Regions from separate parts of the Homo sapiens genome. Here region 2 is linked to region 1. A link means that fine-mapping ties the variant in region 1 to the expression of a gene that starts in the linked region. Tissue or cell type: atrial appendage. Region 1 holds a variant in brackets; the other region holds the start of a gene. All regions are shown on one strand. Distances are from middle to middle.

Region 1 (2,759 bases):
TAATTATTACTTACTAGCACCCACTGTGTAGCAAGCACTGTACTAGGAATTTTCATATGTGTCAGAATTGTTTTCTGGAGGCATAGTGTCTGGATTACAGCCATGCCAGTTATTAGTTATGTGATCTTGAATAAATTATTTCTTTGTGCTTTGTTTCCTCATCTGAAAAATGAGATACTGGCACTACATCAAACGACAACTGTCTCTTCTGTAATATGAATATAATAGCATGTCCTCCAAAAAACCATTTTGGAGATTATATGACCTAATATATGTCAAGTCCTTAGTATGGCACCTGGTGCATAGTAGGCATCACGTGTAATCTATCTTCATTAATATTATCTTATAATTATTTATATTATCATCCCACTTAACAGATGAGGACACAGAAATATTAAAAAGTTGATTTAATTTCTCCATGGCTGCACAGTTAGGCAACAGCAGAGCTCGAGTATACACTCAGGTAGTTCAATAATATCTTCTTCAAAGTCCAATATAGAACATGTCCATTAAAAATGTAGTTTTTAAGTCATTGATTACATATTTATTATTTGCCAGTTATGTACAGATACATTGAATAAAACAGTTTAAATTGAACAACACAGACTCAGTTGGCAGGAAGAGAGGAGAAAGTGAGGAGGGTGTCCATGTGTATTAGTCTATTCTCACACTGCTATAAAGGACTACCTGAGACTGGGTAATTTATAAAGAAAAGAGGTTTCATTGACTCAGTTCCACAGGCTGTACAAGTTTCCTCAGGAAACTTACAATCATGGTGGAAGGGTAAAAAGAAAGCAAGCACATTTTCACATGGCAGCAGGAGAGAGAGAGCAAAGGGGGAAGTGCCACTCACTTTTAAACCATCAGATATTGTGAGAATTCACTATCATAAGAACAGCAAGGGGGAAATCTGCCCCCATGATCCAATCCTCTCCCACCAGATCCCTCCCCCAACACTGGGAATTACAATTCAACATGAGATTTGGGTAGGGACACAGAGACAAACTATATCATTCTGCCCTGGCCTCTCCCAAATCTCATGTCCTTCTCACATTTCCAAACACAATCATGGCTACCCAATAGTCCCTCAAAGTTTTAATTCATTCCAGCATTAACTCAAAAGTCCAAGTCCAAAGTTTCATCTGAGAGAAGGAAACTTCCTTCTGCCTATCGGCCTATAAAATCAAAAGCAAGTTAGTTAATTCCTGGGGAGACAAGCATTGGGTAAATGCTCCCATTCCAAAAGGGAGAAATTGGCCAAAACAAAGGGGCTACAGGCCCCATGCAAGTCTGAAATCCAGCAGGGCAGTCACTAAATCTTAAAGCTCCAAAATGATTTCCTTTGACTCCATGTCTCACATCCAGGCTACATTGATGCAAGGGGTGGGCTCCCAAGGCGTTGAGTAGCTCTGCCCCTGTGGATCTGCAGGGTACAGTCCCTGTGGCTGCTTTCACTGACCAGCATTGAATGCCTGTGGCTTTTCCAGGTGCATGGTGCAAGTTG[T/C]TGATGGATCTGATTCTGGGGTCTGGAGGATGGTGGCCCCTTCTCACAGCTCCACTAAGCAGTGTCCCAGTGGGGACTCTATGTGAGGGCTCCAATGCCACATTTACCCCTCTGCACTGCCCTAGTAGAGGGTCTCCATGAAGGCTCCACCCCTGCTGCTTGTATTGAGTAATACCAGCAGGCTTGTATTAGTCAATTTTTCACACTGCTATAAAGAAATATCCAAGACTGGGTAATTTATAAGGGAAAGAGGTTGAATTGACTCACAGTTCCATATGGCTGGGAGGGCTCAGGAAACTTACAATCATGATAGAAGGTGGAGAAGCAAGGACCTTCTTCACATGGCAGCAGGAGAGAGAAGTGCCAAGTGAGGACGTGCCACACTTTTTAAACCATCAGATCTCATGAGAATCCCTCACTATCATGAGAATAGCATGAGGGAAACTGCCTCCATAATGCAATCACCTCCCTCCCTCAACACGTGGGGATTACAATTTGAGATGAGATTTGTGGGGACACAGAGCCAAACCATATCAAGACTTCTGCCTGGGCATCCAGGCATTTCCATACATCCCTTGAAATCTAGGCAGAGGCTCCCAAACCTCAACTCTTGTCTTCTGCACACCCACAGGCCCAGGCTCATGAAGTCACCAAGGCTTGGGCTTGCACCCTCTGAAGCAATGGCCCGAGCTGTACCTTGACTTCTTTTAGCCAAAGCTAGAGCTGAAGCATCTGGGATGCAGGGCACCATGTCTTAAGGCTGCACGGGACCTTCAACCTGGCCCATGAAACTATTTTTCCATCCTAAGCCTCCAGGCCTGTGATGGGAAGGGCTGCTGTGAAGGTCTCTGAAATGCCCTGGAAGCATTTTCCCCATTGTCTTGGCTATTAACATTCAGCTCTTCTTTACTTATGCAAATTTCTGCAGCCTTGAATTCCTCCCCAGAAAATGGATTTTTCTTTTCTACCTCATGGTCAGGCTGCAAATTTTCCAAACTTTTATGCTCTGCTTCCCCTTTTAATATAAGTTTGAGTTTCAGGTCATTTGTTTGTTTATGCAAATGAGCACAAGCTTTTAGAAGTAGCCAGGCCACATCTTGAATGCTTTGCTGCTTAGAAATTTCTTCTACCAGATACCCTAAATAATCTTTCCAAGTTCAAAGTTTCACAGATCTCTAGAGCAGGGGCACAATGCCACTAGTCTCTTTGCTAAAGCATAGCATGAGTGACCTTTACTCCAGTTCCCAATAAGTTC
Region 2 (2,626 bases), 340 kb after region 1:
TATTTGTTAAATAAATGAATCCATTTGAGCTTCTGCATATTTGAAATTTCATAAGTATATATAAATGGTAAATTGTGATAGACTCAAAGGCTAGTATCATTAGGCAATTGTCTCCCGTTCCCAAAAGACTTCCTAAGTCTACTAAATGATCTGTTTTTAATATGAAAGCAAAGTTATCTAAAAGAAAGGAGAAATCTTTAGTTTTTTTGACTTCGAGATTCTTTGCAATTTAAGCTTTTTTTTTTTTTTTTTTTTTTTTTTTTGCTTTTCTTTCAATGGACACTTTCGAAGTTTTACATAAAAACATTAAAACCTCTTGTTTAATGTAGTGGGATTAAGCTGCCGAAGGCAATCCCTACATGTGAGGAAAATATGCTTCCGACACCCCAATTTTTTTTTTCTCCCTACCCATCCTCTCTGGTGGTCCTGACGCTCCCAGCCCCTTTTTGTGTTTCTTGATTCCATGCTGAGAACTCGCAATACAAACTCAAAGCCCACATTTGTGAGGTGGTTGGGTCAGGACTGCAACTAAAAATGATTATTGTTTTTTAGGTTTCTGGACAGTTCAACACCAGCCTTTGGTTTTGCCTCAGAAGCAGGGAACTTCTCTAGGCCCCTATTTTGCCTTTCAGCTATTGATGATCCAAATCATACCAGCGATTAGGAGGATCATTACCAGACACAAGGCCAGGTACGTTTAAAAAATAAATAAACCAAGCGCAGGTGCACACTCCGAACGCTCATCCCCACCCCCACTTTCCAATCCAACAGTAGGTAACGAGAAATGAATTTTCTAGACTTTTTTTCCTGCAGCAGTTGCTGTTACCAGAAACAAAGTTAGATGATATACAATCTAATCTTCATTGCTCTAAAAGTCCTCTCCCCATGCCCCCCAGGCTGCCTCAATTCTCTAGTTTCTTATTCCTTATAAGCAGGGGATGGAGCTGAACCAAGTCGGCCTTCCCCTCCCAGGGCCTTCTCCTCTTGGTCTGGCTTCCATTTCAGATGCGAATTAACCCTCCCAATACCCTTTCAGAAGCAAGGAGTCCCCTTTTTCTCCGCCTCCAGCCTCAGCTAGGTTTTCCTCATTTCGGATTTTTCTACTGCTCATTCCCAAATGAGTCACGCATGACGACAATTTCCACTCTGCTATGTCAGCCTGGAGATGTCCCCCAAGTGATGGCATCTGCTCTCGGAAAGAAAGGTCATCGGTGCCACGACCAGCCCCGCTAACCCAGAGCGGCCGGTGGGCCCCAGTCCCGAGAGTCAGGGCGCGCGGCGGAGGCGAGGCCGGGGCGGCCTCCGCCCTCCCGGCCGCTCCCCCTCGCGCCGCCCCGGCTCCTCCCTCCGGCCCTCGGCGGGCACCTGGCGGCGGCGGGCAGGGGGCGGCGCTGCGCGCGTCACGCGGCTGGGTGGGATAGCGGGCAGGTGACACCCGGCGGCCTCCTCCCCTTTCCAACCCAGTCGGCGGCCGGGACAGCGGGGGCCGCTGTGAGGAGCTCCGCGCTCGCGCTGCCAGTCGCCGCCCTCTCTCCCGCGCGCGCCCGGCGCTTCGGCTCCGCTCCCTGTGCGGTGAGTGCGGGGTTCCAGGCCGGCGGGCAGGGGCCAAACTTTCCCGGCGCGCGGAGGAGAAGAGACTGGGGAGGGAGGCAGAGCCGAGGGGAACGGCGTCGGGAGTGGCCGGATGGAGGAACTTGGGCGCGGCGCGCGAGAAGTGGGACCCGGGTGCGGGGGCCCCGGGAGCGGGGCCAGGCCCTCCCTGGGCTCGGGAGGCGCTTGGGAAGTTCTGTCCCCGCTGCCTGCGCGTGGGGAGGACCGAGGCCCTTTTCGCCGGAGCGCGGGGCCGCGGCGCTCACCTGCGCCTTCTCGGGAGCCCCCACCCGGCAGCATCCCGAAGGGAAGGTCGGGCCCGGTGGGCGCGCTGCGGAGCGGAGCCTGGACTGGGGTCCCGCGCGGCGCTGGCCCTGCGGAGCGGAGCGGGAGGGGCAGAGGTGCTCGCCGGCGGGACTGGGAGGGAGAAGGACCTGCTCGACCTTGGACGCGGAGGTCATTTTCCCAGCTCCGGGGTCTGGCCTCGCTAGCCACCCCCCCAAATTCCGGAGCCCCTTTCTTTCTGTTTCCTTCCTTCCCCTTTGGGCGCTTTTTTTGCTCCCGCGGCCAGATGAACTTGGGGCGCTGTCCCTTCGGCTCCCCGAGCCGCATCCTGTCTTGGTGGCTGCTGCTGGCCGGGAGGAGGCTGATGAATACAGAGCCGTGGAACAGGTCGTGCCGGAGATGGAAACAGGAAAGCCTGTTGTTTTGTCGTCCCAGGTATCGTTGGTTCTTTGGGAAATGGGCTTTCCCAGGTTCGTTGGGAAATGGGCTTTCCCAGGTTCGTTGGGAAATGGGCTTTCCCCCTTCAAGTCAGAGCTGTTTCAAACTTCACCCGGTGCGGACAGAGCGCTCTTTGGAGCTCCCTGGGGAACTCGGGACGGGAAGGAGCGGGTCTTTACACCTGTCCTGCTCCCAGTGTAGTTAGTCCCGCGTCGACTGAAGAACAGTTTTAGCGACCCGAGTTCCTCGCCAGTGGTCTTTTCCCTCTTGCTACGATCTCCCCTCGGAAAGCATGTTCACTTAACCCTGTGCT

Direction of the effects. Alleles are on the strand shown, and positions count from the first base shown. SD is a standard deviation of normalised expression in the study named.
For the expression in atrial appendage of the gene that starts at base 1,463 in region 2, allele C in region 1 goes with a higher level than allele T (moderate effect, 0.41 SD a copy in GTEx).

The links. PIP is the estimated chance that this variant, and not a neighbour inherited with it, causes the effect.
Region 2: it holds the start of ELOVL7, and the variant in region 1 is fine-mapped to the expression of ELOVL7 in atrial appendage (GTEx, PIP above 0.99).

What each region holds. Positions count from the first base shown.
Region 1 is chr5:61,187,579-61,190,337 of GRCh38, reverse strand. The region is part of intron 3 of SMIM15-AS1 (SMIM15 antisense RNA 1); the gene reads right to left. Among named protein-coding and RNA genes, the nearest start is that of SMIM15, 26 kb to the right of the region's middle. RefSeq lists an enhancer at 2,123-2,638. The variant T/C (reference allele first, on the strand shown) is at 1,505.
Region 2 is chr5:60,843,106-60,845,731 of GRCh38, reverse strand. ELOVL7 (ELOVL fatty acid elongase 7) reads left to right here and starts at 1,463. Exons shown (of 9, transcript NM_024930.3): 1 at 1,463-1,572. RefSeq lists silencers at 1,242-1,541, 1,562-1,721, 1,732-1,791.